Linked DNA regions of Homo sapiens: regions 2, 3, 4 and 5 are each linked to region 1. Evidence: fine-mapped expression QTL. Tissue or cell type: whole blood. Region 1 holds a variant in brackets; each other region holds the start of a gene. Each region is shown on its reference strand, or each on the opposite one.

What was found. PIP is the estimated chance that this variant, and not a neighbour inherited with it, causes the effect. A credible set is the group of variants that fine-mapping cannot tell apart.
Region 2: it holds the start of LINC00656, and the variant in region 1 is the best candidate, but not a certain one, in a credible set for the expression of LINC00656 in whole blood (TOPMed, PIP 0.83).
Region 3: FGR starts here. The variant in region 1 is the best candidate, but not a certain one, in a credible set for the expression of FGR in whole blood (TOPMed, PIP 0.60).
Region 4: it holds the start of C4BPA, and the variant in region 1 is the best candidate, but not a certain one, in a credible set for the expression of C4BPA in whole blood (TOPMed, PIP 0.53).
Region 5: CDH26 starts here. The variant in region 1 is the best candidate, but not a certain one, in a credible set for the expression of CDH26 in whole blood (TOPMed, PIP 0.83).

Annotation. Positions count from the first base shown.
Region 1 is chr7:50,328,951-50,332,950 of GRCh38, reverse strand. The region is part of intron 3 of IKZF1 (IKAROS family zinc finger 1); the gene reads right to left. Among named protein-coding and RNA genes, the nearest start is that of IKZF1, 26 kb to the right of the region's middle. The variant G/A (reference allele first, on the strand shown) is at 2,293.
Region 2 is chr20:23,130,511-23,134,659 of GRCh38, reverse strand. It overlaps LINC00656 (long intergenic non-protein coding RNA 656), which reads left to right and starts at 2,024. Exons shown (of 4, transcript NR_034149.1): 1 at 2,024-2,161.
Region 3 is chr1:27,633,328-27,637,476 of GRCh38, reverse strand. It overlaps FGR (FGR proto-oncogene, Src family tyrosine kinase), which reads left to right and starts at 2,292. Exons shown (of 13, transcript NM_005248.3): 1 at 2,292-2,412. RefSeq lists an enhancer at 109-168 and a silencer at 3,167-3,216.
Region 4 is chr1:207,101,906-207,106,054 of GRCh38, reverse strand. C4BPA (complement component 4 binding protein alpha) reads right to left here and starts at 1,822. Exons shown (of 12, transcript NM_000715.4): 1 at 1,625-1,822.
Region 5 is chr20:59,956,532-59,960,680 of GRCh38, reverse strand. It overlaps CDH26 (cadherin 26), which reads right to left and starts at 2,258. Exons shown (of 18, transcript NM_177980.4): 1 at 1,886-2,258. The coding sequence starts at 1,954.

The DNA of each region.
Region 1 (4,000 bases):
TGCAAGCTGAAATAAACCACTCATGAAACCATGGCGATCCCCTCCCAACTTCAGGAGTTGGCTGCTCCAGTGCACAGAGCCAGAGAAGCACATTCTGGAATGTACCAGGGCATATAGAAATATACCTTATCTCCCTATATTCAAACTCATGTGTCCTCCCGCCTGAATAACTACTGCCTGAGGTTGTCCCGATTATCAAGCCAGGTAGCAAGTCATTTAGTAAGCCCTGTCCCAGGCCCATATGGGCCTCAATCCTTTGGCCTTCCACGGATTCAACCAACCCATCTCCACTTACATCAATCATGGTCCCAGTTCAGTCCTACAGCATTCCTGTGCCTCTGCCCTGGGTTTTTTCTTCAATTCTACTCTAAGCCCTAAATTTGCTTGTCCTCTTTCTCAGGGGTGGCCATCCCGTTTTCTAGCCTGCAATCTTTCTTCTCTGTCCTCTGGTCTTTTGCTCCTCTGTTCCACCCACCCAAACGCCTCCCCTGCTGCCTGATTTCATGGGGGAGGAATGCCCTTACTCACACCTCCAGACCTGTGGGCTTGTCAATAGAATCCTAGTGGCTGAGGACTCTTGGTTAATTTAGGACACGGAAATGTGTACAAGAGAGAAGTCAGTAACTGGCAAAAATGTATGTATAAAGGAGGAGGAAAAAAATGCAAGGATTACTGAATACGGGAAGAAAATAACTAAGTTTTTACTTTTCTCACACAAAACACTTATCTGCTCTCCAGACCCCAACCCTGACATAATTCCTAAACAAAAAACTTTTAAGAGCCCCTGCTCAAGAGTTTTCAGAACAAGTCTCAATTCATTTTTTTACTTCTCTAGCATGTGTGCCATGGCTGACTGAGTAAATCTGGGGTTGCCTGAAGAGGTCACTGAGTGCATCCTCGGCTTTAAACAGTTTCATACACAACCACTTCAGAGAGGTGAGAGTTCTCTAGTTTTTAAAAAGACCACTTCAGAAGAACAAGCTACAGTCTCACTAAATAGACCATTCTGATGACTAAACTCTCCTTGCCAAAAGGAGAGTAAAGACCACATCTCTCCTTTAAGTCTAACTTAAATTCTTCAAGCAACACTTTAAATCCTTTGTTTCATTTTCTTCAGACCGGGAAGAAAATGGAGGCCAACTGAGGGCTGCAGGGCTGCTCTGCCCTCTGGCTCTGTCTCCTTCTCCCCAAACTTACACACAAACCTAGAATGTTCCTTCCACACTGAATGAAGCAATGAGGTGTGAAACCATTATTTGTTTATTCTGGGAGTGACTCACCAATCAGTATAACTTTGCACCCTCCTCATAGGGAACTGATTTCCACCATTCCCATCAATTTGTTTATTAATATGGTCTGTTATCCTTGTTGAGATTAGATTTGTCTAAAACTGAAGGATGCCAGTGGTCATAACAGCTCACAGCTTTCCAAAAGTGTTCCTTGTCACTTTCTAAAGCAGACACTCTTGCAATCTATTATTAGCAAATAATTTCCCACTTTTTTTTTTTTTTTGCATCTTTTAGCTTCTCACCATTTCTCCTTGAAATTTCAACAGTGGCAGCTCGACTTGAACTTGAGTCAGGTGGCGGCCAGCACCCTTACTCTGTCCTTTAGTCTTGCCCTATTCTAACAAATTCTTCCTTTCTCTTTTGGCTGTTTTCAGTTTGTTTATTCTTTGGACCATTTTTTTTAAAGTAAGAAATCCCTCTTCTATCCTTGGTGCTGGTCATCTGTTCTCTCCCTTTTCCCAAGTGAAGCTACGATAGCTTCATTTACCCTTCTTGTAAATCTTTGAAAGTTCTATTTTGCACAAGTTGCATTTCTTTTTTCTGTCCTTTTTACTTTGTGTCTTTGCTACTCTGTCTTCAACAAATTATGTCTATATATGTTCCATCTAACCCTCAAGGCCATTCTGTGATGCAGGTTCAGTTACTATTGCCACCTTCAAAAGAGGAAAGTGAGGCTCAGAGAAGAAAAGCCTTGCCAGAAGCTCCAGGCCAGGGAGGAGAGGGCCTGGACCTGTCCCTTCTGAGGTGTGCCTTACCCACAGGGCACTCTCCGCCCCTGCTGCTCACCCTGCATTTCAGCAACTCCATTTCCTCCTCTCGGCCCCACTGCTTCTGTCTTTTCATTTCCTGCTGTGCACTCCTTACAGTCCTTTGCACTGATGACTTATTCCCATGGAATAATGTGATGAAATATGGTACCCAGGTTATTCCCTTTATCCACGAATTCCCCTACCTTTTTATATTGTTTCCTAATGTTCTCTACATACTTCATTTATTTAATGCT[G/A]TACACTACAAATTAATGAACAGCCTGTCACCACATATGAAAGCTGGCTGGTTTCCTTCCAGAACCATGGAGGGTGGTCTCTAAACTCAGCTCTGTGAAGAGCCCTCTCTTCCCTCCATGTCTCCTTGGGCACTTCGGTCTTGTGGAATCCTCTCCCTCCTTCACTTCCTCTTCTCAAGCCTCTCCTTTGTGTCGTGCCTGGTTTGTCATGTAGGCTTTTGCATCTTTTTTGCTTTCTTTACAGTAACCTATCACTCCTGTGGCCTCTAGCCCCACTGAGGAGCATTCAATCTCCCAAATCATCTCAGTGCCCACGTCACATGGCTGTTCCCGCCTGTCCACAGGGCTGCATCAACTGCTATTTACAAGCAAAGCAAAGAGGTTTTCTAGGGTTTTTAAATTTCACAATTCTGAAATCATATTTTCTAAATTACATCCTGAAGGAAAAGTAGACTGAAAATCATGTCAAACATGATAAAGGGCAGGGCCAGGACCCATGGGCTATGACAAACCCGCCCCTGACTCCAAGGTGACACCTGTGCTGGGGGCAGCTGGGACCGAGGGCAGGACTTTGAACCAAAAGACAGCTCTGGGAACCCATCAGTAATGCCAACCAGATACTGGGTGATCTCCCACCCAGGAAAACCCACCAACAATATGACGTCCGTAAGGGACAGGATACTGACACTGTTTTGAAGGCACGTGTGCTATTCTTCACTCTCCAGGAATCGGCCTGACTTTCAGTTCTCTAAAGATGCCCTAGCCACGATGGCTCACAGCCTCTAAGGGCAGCTGCAGGGATTCCAGGGAGAGCCCATCTCTTTCTCCACAGCGACCCGAGCTGGCCTCCTCACTCTGACATCCAGGCTCTCTGTTCATTTACATGGTTAATGGATCATTTCTTCTGGTTCAGTCCCTGAGCCTCTGTGTTCTTGGGCAGGGTGTGAGCATCTGTTTGCTCCTGTGTTAAGCAGGAAGAACAGTACCCTTGGCGCTGGGTGCTTCAGGGACTAAAAAAATCAGGGAACATCACCACCCAATGACTATTCCTGTGCCACTTTTGCAAACTTTTATCATATCTATGTACTACTATTGACTTGATGTTTTTATTTAAACTGATTTTTTAATTTATATGAATGTGTTTTGAAAGGAACCCTCGTAGTGGTACAGTGCATGGTAAAACCAGTATCACTTGCAATACATAGAAGACAATCTCAAAAATAAATACATAAATTAAAATGAAACATGATCCTTTGCATCCCAACTTTGGAAAACCCTGAAATGATATATGTATCTTTCTTTGGTAGAATAGAGTAGATAATTCACAAGTTCATTTCTCTTCCCCTCTACTTTCCACATATAGTAGCCATTTTCCAATAGGGTAAAATAATTCATAAATGTACTTGTTTTCTGGATTCATCTACACCAAATGGCTTTAGCCACCATCTTTATCTGTTTGTGCCATTAACTGTGCTGCTGAGTTAAAAAAAAAAAGAACCATTATACCTAGTCCACTTGGTTTCTAAGACACATAAAAAACATACAAAATATGTTTTCTTTACTTTTTCTTTTTTTTTTTTTTTTTTGAGATGGAGTCTGGCTCTGTCATCCAGGCTGGAGTGCAGTGGCGCAATCTCGGCTCACTGCAAGCTCCGCCTGCCGGGTTCACGCCATTCTCCTGCCTCAGCCTCCCGAGTAGCTGGGACTA
Region 2 (4,149 bases), not on the chromosome of region 1:
TGTAGCTTTGTAATATGATTTGAAATCAGGAGGTTTGAGTCCTCCAACTTTGTTCTTTTTTTCTCAAGATTGTTTGGCTCTCCAGGGCCCCTTAAAATTCCATATGAATTTTAGGATGAATCCTGCTATTTCTGCAGCAAATCCCTTTGGGATTTTGATAGAGATTGCATTGCATCTGTAGATCACTCTTGTTAGTTTTGACACATTATCAATATTAAGTCTTCCAATTCATGAACAAAGGAAATCTTTTAATTTCTTTATTTCTTCTTTAATTTATTTCATTGGTCTTTTTTTTTTTTGAGACAGAGTCTCACTCTGTCGCCCAGGCTGGAGTGCAGTGATGTGATCTCGGCTCACTGCAAGCTCCGCCTCCCGGGTTCACGCCATTCTCTGGCCTCAGCCTCCCGAGTAGCTGGGACTACAGGCGCCCGCCACCGCGCCCAGCTAATTTTTTTGGATTTTTAGTAGAGACGGGGCTTCACCGTGGTCTCGATCTCCTGACCTTGTGATCTGCCCACCTCGGCCTCCCAAAGTGCTGGGATTACAGGCGTGAGCCACCGCGCCCGGCCGGTATTTTTTTAATGTTTTGGTGTCCAAGTCTTTCTCCTTGCTGGTGAATTTTATTTCCAAATGTTTATTCTTTTTGATGCTGTTGTAAATAGAATTGTTTTCTTAATCCCCTCTTGGACTTGTTCACTGTTAGTGTGTTCTGTTTGCCCTGATTGACATGGGAAGCATGACCTAGCTATGTCTGTAAGATCTTAGGACCCTCCCTCTGAGCAGCTGGAAGAGCCCGGGACAGCCTTGGTTAGGCCGCAGTTTTCCAGAACAGACTCATAGCCAGGGAGATCAGTTGCTCACAGCACCCATCTGATAACCGGTTGATAACCGGCACCACAGGAGCTGGCTGCTGGCTCTGCCTTCCTCCCTCCCTAACCAGTGTCTGTGCCTTCTAGTGAAGGGCGCTAACCTTACTATCTCCACCTGCTGATGCCTGTTGGCATTTAAAGTGAGTTTGCATCGTATCAATGACGCCTACATAATACAGTCACAATAAACTGATACGGATGCTCCCTAAATCCCAGCTAATCTTTTTCTGGCCTTAGCCCAAATAAGTTGAATTGATAGATAAACAAAATTAACAAAGAAAAAAATGTGCCGAGATCCTAATGCAGCTCCTTAGAAAAGAGCCCTAAATACCCCGACCCTGCATCCACTGGGATGATGAAGTTCAGGGAGAAGCCTGTGGGCCTCCCCTTCTGCTCTGGAGGGTGAAGCTTTTACTGCCAACGAATGTGTCTGGGCCCCTCTAGGGCAAAGGCAGCTATTGGGGTGGGAAGTGTAGAGGAGACCCACCCTCCATTGTCAGTGCCATCATCTGGTCTCTCCTGTAAACTTTGCAGCCCCAGAGGGAAGCCATCTGGGCGTTAGAGGCTGGAGAGCCCCAGACCAAGGCGCCTTATCTGTCGGCACACTTCTGGAGCTAGGCCCATGACCTCACTCCACCCATGACCTTCCCCACTGACTTCACAGTTCCAGGAATTGTTAGAAAAACCCTTTTTAAAATTCCAGGAAGCCCCAGTCCCCTCAGTGCTGCTGCTCATGCATTGAGAAAGAGAGAGGCGGAGCCAAGCTGGGGTCTTTGTGATCCTGGAGCCCCCACCTCTGGGGCCTGGGGCTGGGGTTAGTCTCTATCTTTCTCTGCTGGCCCTTGGTTCCACAATGTGGAAGCAAGACCAGGCCCTGCAGATAGAGAAGGTTCTCGTGTTCTTGGCCCCCAGCCCTCCAAAGGAAAACCTTTAGCTTAAGGGACTCTCTACCTCCTTTGAAACTCATCCCTCTTCACACTTCGATATGAAACCCAGAAATTCAGAAAACAGAAAGGAAGAATAAGAGGAATGTTAAAAGCCAACGCTTTTCCAGCTCTCATGGTGTGCCTGACACTGTGCAAAGGGCGTTACCTACAATTACCTCATTTGACTCTGACAGTAGTAACCCATGAGACATACGTTGCTATTACCTCATTTTACAGATGACACACTAAGGCGCAAGGCAGCTGCACATCCACGGCCAGCCTCGTTGTCTTCAGGGATTTGTTCAAAGTTCATTCTGAATTGTAAGGTAACCACTGCAGAACACGAGCCTTTCCTGGGTATGTGTGGTAAGTGCTTCATAAATGCTGTTCTGAGGCTAGGTGCTAATGGAGACGGGGCAGATGAGTGGTAGAGTGAGCCCCGGTCCTAGGCCCAGTTCTGCAGCTGCTGGAGGAGCAATCCATCAGCCTGCTCCAGGCCCCGGCCCTCTCCTGGGAAACAAGTCCTTCTGCCATATGAGCTCCCTGAGGACTAAATGGGACTGCGTTGCGGACTTAGTTGCTGGACACACATGATTTTGTCACCTCTGTACTAGTGTGACTGGGACCCACCTTCCAGGCAGAATAAATCCATGCTGAAATTGACTTGATGTCTGTGCTGCTATTCTTGGAGAAAAAGATAAGAATCAGGAAATAAATAGTGCATAAACCACACAACCAGAAAACACACCGAATAATCGTGCTGACGATATAATGACAAGAAGCGGGGCCTTAACAAATAAGGAAAAGGGCCGCGGTAGGATGATCTGCTGCTGGTCTAAGAGGTCAGCTTCTTGTTTGGGCTGAAGTCTTTGGGATTCTTGGAAAGCCTGGCCAGTCATTTCACGTGCTGAAAGGATTGTGGGCCACGTTTTAATCGTGGTCAGATTATCAGGAGATTCTTGAGGTCTGAGGTCAATTTAAGCTCCTGGTCACCATGTAAGCCTCACAAATATGGTCACTGTCTGTGGCAGCTGACCCGGGTGATGCTTGTGTGGCGGAATTCTTCAGTTATCACAGAAATAAATACCAATTGGTGGAAAAAGAATATTTTGTTATTCTCTAGTGGACTTTAGGAATGGCTGACAGAGATAAAGGACCCTTCAGTAGCACAGGCTACACCATGCCCTTTTTTAAATTATTTTTTTATTTTTCATTATAATTTTTTTTAAAGATAGGGTCTCCCTCTGTTACCCAGGCTGGAGTGCAGTGGTGCAAACATGGCTTATTGCAGCCTCAGCCTCCTAGAATCAAACGATCCTCCCACCTCAGCCTCCTGTGTAGCTGGGACCACAGGCACATGCACCACGCCTGGCTGATTTTTTTTATTTTTTGTAGAGTTGGGATCTCAGGTTGTTGCCTAGGCTGGTCTAAAACTGCTGGGCTCAAGCCATTCTCCTGCCTCAGCCTCCCACATTGCTGGGATGACAGGCCTGAACCACCACACCAGGCCTCCATGCCTCTTGAGATGTCAAACATCTGGATCAAGATACGGAAAATCAGAGTGCTCAAATATAGCTTAAGTCATCCAGAGTGAGCTCTCTACGGATTACACAGGGCACTCAATCCATAGCATGATGCCATGTTTTCCAATGGACAACACTGCTTTTAAGTAAACCAGGTTTCTTTATTTATAGTTGTTTGTGAATTTAATATGCTAATAAATATTTTAATTGCCAAGCCAGGGTAAGTATACAGCTATGCTCAAGCATAATTTGACAAAACATTCAAACTCATTTTGCTTCTTTTTTTGAATGGAATATCTATTGACTTATTGTGGAAAATACGTGATCCAAAAACAGCGGCTTGCCAAATACTGCTTGAAGAAACCTAAAGATAACTGAATCTTTCACACTTAGTCGTGCTGTTTGGAGGTCTGGTTTATTTTGTTCCACTGAAATCCTTGGCAGGGAAGTGGAATAAAAGAAAATCTTGCTGTGACTTAGACCTTCTGAGTTTGCTAACACCTTTGCATCATGTTTAGAAGACTACATTCTTTTCACCCTGTGAAGTGTGAAGTCTGGGATGTTGGGTGACTTGGAGAGTGGCCCTCTTTGGGTTTTATCCTCAGCTCTTATGAAATTTTGGTGCTTCAGGGACAGTGTGTCACAGGCAGCCAAAAGCGCTGGATAAGCAAGAAGAGCCATTTGGAACTTTCTAAGTCTTATGCAAGTTTTGGCAAAAAAAAGAAAAAAGCCTTCCTTGCTACTTTTCAGGGAGGTCGATACTAACATTTGCCCCCCACCCAGGGTGTGAACTGGAGGCATCACTGCCTGGATGAGTGCCGGGGGCTGTGG
Region 3 (4,149 bases), not on the chromosome of region 1:
GTTAATTCCTTTGTCCTTTGGTTGATTCACGTGTTCCTATACACAGAAAGCCTGCTACTGTGTGCTGGGCCTTGTGTGGGTACTGGAGGCATCTACAAGAGCCAGACCCCTGCCCTTGAGGAAAACATATCCCACACACCCATCCCCCAGGAACCAGTGGTGCCCCAGGCAGAAGATGCTGAGGTTCTGCTGGGGGTGTGGAGTGGGTAGAGGCAGCAATCAGGGAAGGCCTCTAGAGCAGATGCTTGTGAGTCAGACCTTGAAGGATGACAGAGCGAGCATGATAGATTGGGGGGATCCCCCAAGAGCAGGGACCAGTCTCTCATCTCTGTGTTCCCTAAGGCTGGCACCTAAGACACAATTATAAACGTTTGCTTGTTTGCTAATTGAACATGTGGGCCGATGGCCAGGCAGGGAGCATTTGATGGCGGAGGTGATGCTGCCCGGCTAGGGTGAAGCCACTCTTCCAGAGACCCTGCACTGCCACTGGCTCCTCTGTCTTCCTCCTCATCCCTCCTCCCATTTCCTAAGAGAAAAGCATTCTTATCTCCATCCCACCACTCTGTTACCCCAGGCACATTGGGCCACACTTGAGCATGTGTACGCATGCACACACACATCCCCACATGCCCCTGCCCATACAAAGAAACACACTTGCCTGCACACCATGGCCTAGTTGTTGATTCCAAAAGCAAAGTCATCATGTCATTGCTTTCTCTCTCTCTCTCTCTCTCACACACACACACACACACACACACTTCTGTGTTTACGCACACTCTCCCTGCCTCTCACCACATCCCAACAGACACATCCTTCTCCACCAAACAGCCCTCCCCACCACACCTCTTCCTCTCCTGGACAGGAGGGATATTCCGGGTTCTTGCTTTAAGGCTGAAGTAACAGTGGTGGGAGTGGGGACTGAACCCCAGATTGAGGAGGGGTCAGGGATCCCTATCAGACAGAGAGACTGGAACTGATAGAGGATGCTACCGTTTCTCTTTTTGTTTTTAAAAATCTTTTTCCACATGTTCTAAGATACTCAGTTTTTCTTCCTTTTTTTTTTTTTTTTTTTTTTTCTTGAGACGGAGTCTCGCTCTGTCGCCCAGGCTGGAGTGCAGTGGCGCCATCTCGGCTCACTGCAAGCTCCGCCTCCCGGGTTCACACCATTCTCCTGCCTCAGCCTCCTGAGTAGCTGAGACTACAGGCGCCCGCCACCACGCCCGGCTAATTTTTTGATTTTTAGTAGAGATGGGCTTTCACTGTGTTAGCCAGGACGGTCTTGATCTCCTAACATCGTGATCCACCCGCCTCGGCCTCCCAAAGTGCTGGGATTACAGGCGTGAGCCGCTGCACCCGGCCTTTTCTTTCTTTTTTTTAAAAAAAGTCATTTTCTGCAACAAAACCCACATTCTTTTTTTGTGTTTTTTTTTTTTAAGGCAGGGTCTTGCTCTGTCACCCAAGGTAGAGTGCAGTAGCTCAATCACAGCTCACTGCAGCCTCGACCTGCCTGACTCGAGGGATCCTTCCACCTCTGCCTCTGCAGTAGCTGGGACCACAGGTGCACACCACCACACCGAGCTAACTTAAGAAAAATTTTTTTTGGTAGAGATGGTGTCTCCCTATGCTGCCTAGGCTGGTCTGGAATTCCTGGGCTCAAGCAATCCTCCCACCCAACCTCCCAAAGTGCTGGGATTACAGGCTGAGCCACTGCCCCCAGCCAGTTACTCAGTTTTTCTAAAACTTGGGTGCCTGGGGGAGGCTGACACCCTTCCCACTCCTCTGAAAGGCAGTTTCCTAAGGGAAGGGTCTTCTGCTGCTCACCACCCTTAACAGCCCTGTGTCCCCAGTGCTCAGCCCCTGAGGAAGGGAAGGCGTGCTGACAGGGTCCATGTGATCCATGTCCAGTGGCTCTGGTGACAGCAGTCTGAAGTCAACTGGCTGTGAGAACTCGAGTAAGGCCAGTCCCGATCTGGTCCTCAGTGATGGAGAAAAGCCCCTCTTAACCTCCAATTCAATGATCCTAAAAGAGCAGGTGCTTCGGGGGTGCTGAAACTGCGCTTTTGGAGGGGGCTTTTGGGAAGGCCGGGCTGGGGACTCAGGTCTGGAGGGTGACAGAGCCGACCTCCCGTAAACCAGGGAGGAGGAAGGTGGGGGCGGGTGGGCCTAGGATCTGGGGGCGCCTCCTCGCTGCGGGGAGCTGGCTTGGGGCTAGGGCGTGACTGTCTCCCTGCCACCATCACCGCCCGCCGGCCGTGACTGCAATAAGAGAAGTCCGAGGCGGCTTCCTCCTCCCTGCCCAGCAGGGGCGGCGGTCAGAGGCGGGCAGCACCCCAGTTCTCCCCGCACGCCGGCACTCGCGGCTGCTGGAGCCCCGGCTGGCTCACCCCGGGGCCGGGCAGAATTGGGCTCCAGGTAAGCGACAGCGTCGGGTGGGGACTGGGCAGGTCAAGCAGTGCCCTCCCCCTCGAGGCTCTGGAGAGAGGACTGGGGGTACACGGGAAGAGAAGCCTGAACCTGGGGGTCGGGGGACACATGAGCAAGGTGACAGCCAAAGGGACCCCAGCCCGAAAAGGCCTAAGGAGGAAAACGGGCGACCTGAAAAGCAAGGCTGATAAACCTGGAGGAGAGGGCGGAGGGGAGCACGGGGGAAGCCGACCAAAGGGACCCCCAAAAAGGTCTAGTGGGTAAAATGGAGGGGACTGATAAGAGTTTAGGAAGGGGGCTGAGGTGGGGGAGAAGGATTAAGGGGAATCCCCAGGACGGTCTGGGGGAGAAACTGAAGGGATCGTGAGAGTGGGACTTTGGGGAGAAGCCGACGGGTCTGATGGGTCCAGGAGAGGGGAAATGGGTGGGGGTGCTGGAGGGAACAGGAGAGGGAGCTGGCGGGAAGGGGGTTGAGGAGAACGACTTCTGGAGGACGGAGAACCTGGGGTGCAATTGCGGGTCCAGGAAGTTCCCCTCTTCCGAGCCGGCCGAAGTCGGGGTGAAGCCCACAGCCCGCAGGGTAACGTTAGCGGCCGCGACCGCGGCCCCGCGACCCTCTCGGCCCGCCCTTGCGGTAGGTTCCGGGCTGCAGGGGACTCCTGCCGGGCGCGCGAGGCGTGGGTCCCCGCTTCCTGGGGAAGTCCCCGCCCTCGGCAGGGACAGGCCTCTCCGGGCGCCCCCTCCGCGCCCGCGGCGGTCTCGGCCCGCGCTCCCCGCTGGATCCGGGAATTGCTGCCGCCCCGACGGAAATCCTGCCTTTGACCGCGAGTGCCCGCAGGGGCTGCCTCCAAGGCAACGAGAGGGCGGGCCGCGCTGGGCCGCCGCGGGGCTCCGGGTGGGCGCAGCCCCCTTTGCTCTCCGCCTTCGCCCCCTTTTGGAATCCTCGGTCTGGTGGGTGGGGGGTGGGCTTCCCGACCGAGGTAGGAGGCGATGCCGCTGTGTTCAGGGATCCTGGGGTGGAGGATCTGCTGTTTGAGAGACCTGGGTTCTTAGCAAGACTGGGCCCTTAATTGCTGTGTGACTGTGGGCAAGTTACAGGGCTTCTCTGGGCCTCACTTTCCTCATCTGAACTATGGTGAGAAATGATCCTTGTGTCCACTCTTCCCCCACGAGAATCAGGTGCAGAAAGCAGTTTTTGCTGAGTGTCCTGAAGGGTTAAGGGCTATCCCTGACTCAGCGAGCCTCCCCTTCACCTTCTCAAAAACATGCAGAGGAGGCCAGCCTGGGCAGCACAGGGAGACCCCCGTCCTGTCTCTACAAAAAAATATAGTTAGCCAGAAGGCTGGAAGTGGTGGCACCTGCTGTAGTCCCAGCTACTCCAGAGGCTGAGGCCGGAGGATCGCTGGAGCCCACGAGTTCAAGGCTGCAGTGAGAGCTCCTGGATGAGAGAGTGAGATTTTGTCTGTAAACAACAACAACAACAAAAAGCATGGAGGGGGACCAGACTGCCCGGCTCTCACTGACAGGGCCTCCAGGGACCAGCACACAGTTGGCGTCTAAATAGTTTATGGCTCTGATGAGAGCCCATACTGGGGAGGTCAGCAGAGTTAAAATCTGTCTCACACCCTCTCTGGTGCTGCATCCAGTTGGCCGCCCCTCGGGTGTGTACTCTCAGGGGCCCTGATGTCCTTGGCATCCTTCCGACTGTGGTGATGATGGGAGAGC
Region 4 (4,149 bases), not on the chromosome of region 1:
GATATCAGTTCCCTCCATCTCTAAAATAATGACATTAAACCTAGATGAACAAATTCTGCAATTCTGTAACTGCTCACTGAAAAGCTGAGACTACTCTAGCCAACTTTCATATTTCAAGGACTTCACCTTTTAAATTCCTGCAGAAATGGAACCAACTCAAGAACTTTAGTCAGCATGGCGGGTCCCTTGTGAAAAATAATATCAGCACTTAGCAATGCAGTGCAATTTGAGAGTCACTGGAAAAATCTTTAGTCCTCAAATTTCTCCTTCCATGAGAAGTTACTTTTTAAGTTAATATTTATTTTGTCTAACTTCCCCCTTTTAAAATGCAGATACCTTGTGAAAGGATAGTATTTTTCTCCAGTCTCGGGCTGAGTGTCTTCTTCCTTATACCTGGGCTCTCAATTATATCACTTACAAACTCCAGAAAGAACTGGCTCCCACACTTTCCCCACCCTTCCTAGAATCTCTTTTTTTTTTCTTTTTTTTTTTTTTTTGAGGTGGAGTTTCACTCTTGTTGCCCAGACTAGAGTGCAATGGCACGATCTCAGCTCACCCCAACCTCTGCCTCCCTGGTTCAAATGATCCTCCTGCCTCAGCCTCCCAAGTAGCTGGGATTACAGACATGTGCCACCATGCCTGGCTAATTTTGTAATTTTAGTAGAGACAGGGGTTCTCCATGTTGGTCAGGCTGGTCTCGAACTCCCGACCTCAGGTGATCCGCCAGCCTCGGCCTCCCAAAGTGCTGGGATTACAGGAGTGAGCCACCGTACCTGGCCAAATCTCTTTATTTTTCTATCAGCCCCTTTATTCTGTGCTCATACTACATTCAAACATATCTCTAAGCTTAATGCCAACCTTCTTTGATGCTTCTGCCTCTTCTGTAGTCTACTTTTTATTCTTTTGGTGTTACCATATTTAGAGATAGAATAGGAATCAGCAAAGAGACAAGTGGTTGAAGAATTAAAATGAGGACCAGAATGGTACTGTATCCTGGCCAACCAAGGAAGAAGAGAATTTCAAGAAGGAAGGGTTATCAGCATCGTCAAATTCAGAAAGTAAAGAAGATGAGGACGACTAAGACTGCTAGCTTCAGAAACCAACTGGAGGCTGGCCAGTGTCCTCCTTATTACCAAATCTAAACATCTTTGCTGTCAGTGGTGGAGGAGATTTGGAGTGGTTAATCAAATCTCAAAATAGAAATGGCCCCAGTTTTCAGAATGTAGACTAAGAAAAGCAAGCTTCCTGTGAACCCTTTGAAAAGTCTGATTGACCCCTTGCCTCAACTCTGATGTGGGAAGGTGGTGAAAGATCAACAAACCAACACATCTGTCTTTTAGATACAGTAACAAGAGCAACACCTTACACCTCTTCTTCTTTAGCTTATTTTATTAGAATGCAATATTATTCCTCCATTTATAATTTTTAAAACTTGAGGTTCAGATAGGGTTTAAAGTACGTCTCAAGTCTTACATCCCCCTAATACAGTGCTCCTGAAAAGATTTCTGCTGAAAACACCTCCAAGCTTTTGTCTCTGTTTTATCCTTCTAATCCTGCACTCCTTAAAGGGCCAAACCACCAGCCTTTCCTCCAAGCTTCCCCAAGGGTTTAGTAGTCCACCGACCTTTGGTAGTTGAGGAAGAGCAGAAGACTCTATGATGATATCTGGGATAGTTTCTCAAAGAAGAAAACTGCCTTGATCTATGTAGTCCTGGTTCCTCCCCAGATCAGAGTTTATCATAATACCCTGAAGTTGACTGGTAATTGCTCCACCAAAGAGTCCCTGAATTTCAGCCATGTGGTTGGCTGGTCAAGGACGGTTGATGGAAATAGATGGGCAGAAACTTTTGACGGGCCCAATGAATGATTAACAGCAGAAATAAAGCAGCACTGTTTACCTAAGCTCCTTCCTCTTTGCTAGTCCTCATTCTTCGTAACATGTCGCAATCGTTTATTTTCTCCTCTGCCAACCATTTCCCCTAAGTGGAAAGGTAATTTGAATTTGAAGCCAGAATTCTTTTTTCTTTTCATAAACACATAAGGGTTATGGCAAGACACAGTCCAGCTAGCCTGGAAACCTTGGATACTGCGAGGTTCAGAGAGCCTCCGCAAAAATGATCCACTTTCCATGACACTAGGTCCAGTATGCTTTCCTGGAGTTTGAAAACTGATATTCTTGCCCAGAGCTCGTCTCTATCCCACCCCAAGGAATTACAAAAGGTGGGGAATTTATCAAACATGCATTGGGTTTCCACTATGTGCTGAGTTATCTAGAACGTATTTGGAGTTCAGCAAATGTTAACTGCTACTACATGTCAGGCACCAGAGGGCCTCCAAAAATTGATCTATCCAGTGCGCTCAGAAGAACGCAATGAAGGACCGGCCATGTTTCCTCTCGCATAGATCTAAAAAGACCACAAGCACTTACATAGTCCAATTAAGCTACTAATCCTCAAGGTTAAGATTTGTGTGCTCAGAAGATTGCTATTAAAAGGCAATTCTTTCTGAGAACTTCACTTTTTCTGTAATAAATACTGAAAGTCCCAGAAGAGTTTCAGAAAAGGAACTAAACTACAACAGGTTGAGTTAATCAAGGAAGTTTCTACAGAAGATGTGAGATTTGGATAAAAGGTAGAAATTATTAGATAAAAGTGGTAAGGATATTAGATGTAAAGAAACCATGCGCTAGGTCACCAAGGTGAGACACTGATTTGACCAGAATGAAGATAGAGGAGGATTCCAGATTGCACAGTCTTGAGACTAAATTGGAAGAAATATCACCTTTAAAGCTGCTATTTCTTTAAAGTACCGTTTTCCAATGTATTGAAGTCCTTTCGTTTACTTTCCACAGTGACTCTTGCAGATTTTTCTCTCCAGGTCACCAAATTGTCACATTCCCTCTCAGCAGATGCTCTTACCTCCTACTTTACTAAAAATCATTCTACCTTAGCTTCATCAATGTCAAATTTTCCCTCCTATTCACTCCTCATTCCGAGGAGAATTGTTTCTTCTTTTCCTGCCTCATTTTCAATGCATCTCTCATCCTGAAATGTCCCTTCAATTTTGCCAATACCTCAAATTCCACCTTTCTTCTTTAGTGTGATGCTGAACTTCTCAAAGGTGTGACTTGTTCTACCTGCCTGTTCTTTCTCATTCATCACTCCACCTGTTGCTTTCCCATCTGGCTTCTACCACTCTTCTACTGACATGTCTCTCTGAGGCACGCCCTTAGGTCCAAGTCCAAAATATCTTTAATTCATTTCTTAGGATCTGTCTGCAGCCTTTGTCACTGCTGATCATTTCCTTTCTGAAACTCTCTTCTCCTTTGGCTTCCATGACACTAAACTTACCTGATTCCCTTAACTTAACTAATTTCTCTTTCTTAGTTACTGTTACCTTCTCTTCCTCCTTCTCATTCCTAAATATAGATATATCTCAGGCTCTTCTTTTTTTAAAAAAATTATCTTCGCAATTTTAATGATCTTGCCTTCTGTCACAGCTTTAACTATTACCAGTAAGAAGACTAGCCAGCACTACATTATTATTTCTGATTACTCTCCGAAACTCAAGACTTACTTTCTTAGGTTTTGTTTTTTTTTTCCCCCCACTGGACATCTTGCAAGCACTTCACCCTCAGCACATCCAAAGAGGAATTTCTCATTTCCGGCCAACAAGCTTCACTTTCTGACCCCAGCTTTTTCTGACCTCTGGTTCTCGGGAATAAAATTTCAGATTCACTTTTGAACTCTTCCTCTCCCTCACCCTTCAATGTTTGATTAGTTGACAGGTTGTTTTGATACAAGTTTTCAATATCTCTCGTGTCTGCTGCTGCTTTTTCATTTCTGCTGCCACCAAACCAGTTCAGGTTGATAATGCCTCCCATATGGACTATTGTAGGAGTCCTTTCGTTGGTTTCTCTTAGTTCTTTTCCCTCATCAACCAATACTACAACCAACATTGTGAGAGAAATCTTTCTTTATGTTCTGTCCTTATTACTTCATTGTTTGCAAGGCTTCCATGTCTTCATGGTCTGACTGCCAAAAAACAAATGTATATTCTCTGCCTACCAAAAACAAGTGTATATTCTCTAGCACGTCATTCAAAAGCCTCCATAAACTGGCTTTGACTTATCTTTCCAGCCACCTTCTC
Region 5 (4,149 bases), not on the chromosome of region 1:
AGAAGGATTATATCATTGTTTTGAAATAATTATCTTTGGCTACAAAGATCAATAAGAAGGGTGACACTGGTCTGAGTTTGCACAAAAAGTTGCTGGGAAGATTTCTTCGAAAAAGTATTTTTTGTGTAAGGTTTTAACGGCCTTTGTGCAAAGTTGTTATTTTTGCAGAGCTTTTGTGATAGTTTTAGTTATCAAGCCTACAAATGTGAGAACCCCCTTTTCATAACCTTCTTTGTGTCTATATATCAGGCTTTGTGCCTGTGTGTGTGTGTGTGTGTGTGTGTGTTTTAACATAAGGAACTCCATTCTGATTCTGACAACTTTCGCAGTACCAAGGGCTTTTACGCATTTCCTCATTCACTGGTACAACCACTGGCTCAGATAAATTCAGTTACTAGCTCCATTTTCAGGTGAAGAAAAATAGGCTTAACAAGGTTATGTTAAAACCAGTGCACTGACACCCAGTGCACTCCCAGGTCAGCTCAACCTGAACCTTTGGGGGCAAAACCCAGGCACTGAGATCCCTTGAAGCTCCCTAGGTAAGTTCAACTTGATCCAAGGTAAGGAACAAAGTTAAGCTGGCCTAGGTCCCCAGCGGGCTGTGAAGGAGCCTAGGTCAGGACGCCAAGCAGCCCAGTCCAGAGCTCACAGTTACCAGCCACTGGGCTGCTTCCCACCCTCAGCTGGTATTCAAAGGAAGAAATGATTCCCTCTCCCTACCTACAGAAAGCCAACGAAGCAGATCATAACCAACAAGCGCATGCAACATTACCTCTGTCCACTCTAAGTACAAACAGAGCAAGCCCATGTGTTTCGAATCCTGACTCCACTAGTTTGTATTCCCATTTAAACAGTGGCAGTTGGGGGCAATGGATTTAGCCATTCCATCCCCATGGGTTTGCTCAAATTGCCTTGGATCCAGACAACTGAGATTTCCTCAATCTTATGTAAAGTGTGAACAGAAGTATCATTATAAAACTTGGCAGGGCGCAGTGTCTCAAGCCTGTCATCCTAACACTTTGGGAGGCTGAGGCAGGCAGATCACTTGAGGTCAGGAGTTTGAGACCAGCCTGGCCAACATGGTGAAACCCTGTCTCTAATAAAAATACAAAAACTAGCCGGGCATGGTGGCGTGCACCTGTAGTCCCAGTACTCGGGAGGCTGAGCCAGGAGGTTGCTTGAACCCAGTAGGAGGAGGTTGCGGTGCACTGAGATGTCACCACGCACTGTAGCCTGGATGACGAGACCCTGTCTCAAAAAAAAAAAAAAATTGTGTGTGTTGGCTGGGTGAGGTGGCTCATGCCTGTAAACCCAACACTTCGGAAGGGCAAGGCGAATAAATCACTTGAGCTTAGGAGTTCGAGACCAGCCTGGGCAACATGGTGAAAATCCATCTCTATAAAAAATACAGAAATTAGCCAGCGTGGTGGTAAGTTACTGTAGTCCCAGCTACTCTTGAGGCTGAGGTGGAAGGATCACCTGAGCCTGGGAGGTTAAAGCTGCAGTGAGCCTTGATCATGCCACTGCACTCCAGCCTGGATGATGAAGCCAGACCCTGTCTCAACAAAAGGAGAAAGAAACAAAGAAAGAAAACACGTGTGTGTTGATGTAATCTCACTAAAAATAGTGTGAACTATATAAATTAGTTTTAAACAGGTCCCTTAGCCTGCTCCCACTGTTGCCCCAAACAGACTGGGACCCTTAACTTCCCTTTATATAAATCCAGAGCCCCTGCTACCTAAGCCATTCTCAAGACAGCCAGCCCTGGGTCCCAGCAGGTCACACTCAGTCCCTCTCCCCTCCCTTAGCCTAGAAGGGGCAGGGCCAGCTTGTGCTTTGCTTTCAGTTCCCTGCACCTGAGCACTAGGCTGCAGGCTCAGCTTACCTGCAGCAGCCACAGCAGCAGCACTAGAAGCAGCAGCAGCGAGGGGTGCCTCCCGGATCTCATGGCCATATGGGAATACCCAAGACAGACCCAGAACGTGCAGCTGATGACCAGTCCTCCAAGCTGGTGGTCTCACCGGAGCCACACACCTCCTTCTCAGCCAGCAGCTTCTTCTCTAAAGGTTTTCAGGTCACTTTGGCCCAGATGCTTTCATCCCATCTTGCTCCTCCCTTTTCAGCTTTTCTTGCATTTATCAGAGTGGGGTGGGCTGACTTGTAAGCTTGAACATACGTTTGCCACAAGTAGAGTTCCTAGGAAGGGTGGGGTAGAAACTAAAGCCACCATGGTCCTGCACGTACACAAAAGACTGGCTGGGGTCTGACCTCAGGAACAACAGCTCAGCCAGCGGAAGTAAAACCAGCACCTATCGGAAAGCAGAATTATTTGTTTCTTTGTTTCCTTGTTTGTTCTGGTTTCCAAATAGAAGGTCCAATCATCTCTTTCTATAGCAGGATATGTTAGTGACTATTTTCTATAATCTTATCCTCTTGAACCAAACAAAAAAAACTAGAAAATGACAAGAATGATAACTTTATTAAGGGGGAAGGGATGGGGAAGAATGAAAGAAAAGAAAAATCAACTTTTACTTTCCAAAGCACTAAAAATCGTTATTCCAACAATATCCCAGGGCTCTGGGGTTTTCAAATTATTTCTACTAAAACCTTTTTTAAGCTTAGATTAATCTGCCTTTTTGAGTTTGGAATTAAAGTGGGAGGGAGGAGAGATGGGAAAGAGCCTCCCTATGGACAGGGATCTCTGTGGCAACCCGGGAGTCTTTGCATGAGAATTCTGAAAGAGACAATTTGAGATTATATTATACCAATACTTAAGGTTGCAGTAAGCAAGTTTTAAAACACAATCTGTGATACATTAACCCTGATTACCTTAACATGACCTTTTTATCACATTACCTTGTTTAAAGTAGTAAACAGATAAAATAAAAGGTAAACTTTCTTTGCTTGTTCTAGATATTGGCTTAGGCAAGGATTTCATGACCAAGAACCAAAAAGCAAATGCAATAAAATCAAAGATAAATAGCTGGGACCTAATTAAACTAAAGAGCTTTTGCACTGCAAAAGGAACAGTCAGCAGAGTAAACAGACAACCCACAGAGTGGGAGAAAATCTTCACAATCTATACATCTGACAAAGGATTAATATCCAGAATCCACAATGAACTCCAACAAATCAGTAAGAAAAAAACAATCCCATCAAAAAGTGGGATAAGGACATGAATAGACAATTCTCAAAAGAAGATATACAAATGGTCAACAAGCATATGAAAAAATGCTCAACATCACCAATGATCAGCAAAACGCAAATCAAAACCGCAGTGCGATACCACCTTACTCCTGCAAGAATGACCATAATCAAAAAATCAAAAAACAGTAGACGTTGGTGTGGATGTGACAATCAGGGAACACTTCTACACTGCTGGGGGGAATATAACATAGTACAGCTGCTATGGAAAACAGTGTGGAGATTCCTTAAAGAACAAAAGTAGAACTACCATTTGATCCAGCAATCCCACTACTGGGTATCTTCCCAGAGGAAAAGAAGTCATTATTCGAAAAAGATACTTGCACATGCACGTTTATAGCAGCAAAATTCACAATTGCAAAATCGTGGAACCAACCCAAATGCCCATCAATCAACTAGTGGATAAAGAAAATGTGTATATGCGTATCTATATGTATATATACACATATATGCGTGTATATATGTGTATGTACATATATACACATATATGTGTGTATATATGTGTATGTACATATATACACGCATATATGTATATATACACATATATGTGTATATATGTGTATGTACATATATACACATATATACATACATATATACACACATATATGTATATATATACATACACATATATACACACATATATGTATATATATACATACACATATATATACACATATATATGTATATATATGTGTATATACAGATATATATGATGGAATACTACTCAGCCATAAAAAGGAATGAATTAACAGCATTTGCAGTGACCTGGATGAGATTGGAGACTATTATTCTAAATGAAGTAACTCAGGAATGGAAAATCAAACATTGTATATTCTCACTGATTTGTGGGAGCTAAGCTATGAGGACACAAAGGCATAAGAATCATACAATGGACTTTGGGGAATTGGGGGGAAGAGTGGGAAGAGGGTGAGGGATAAAAGACAA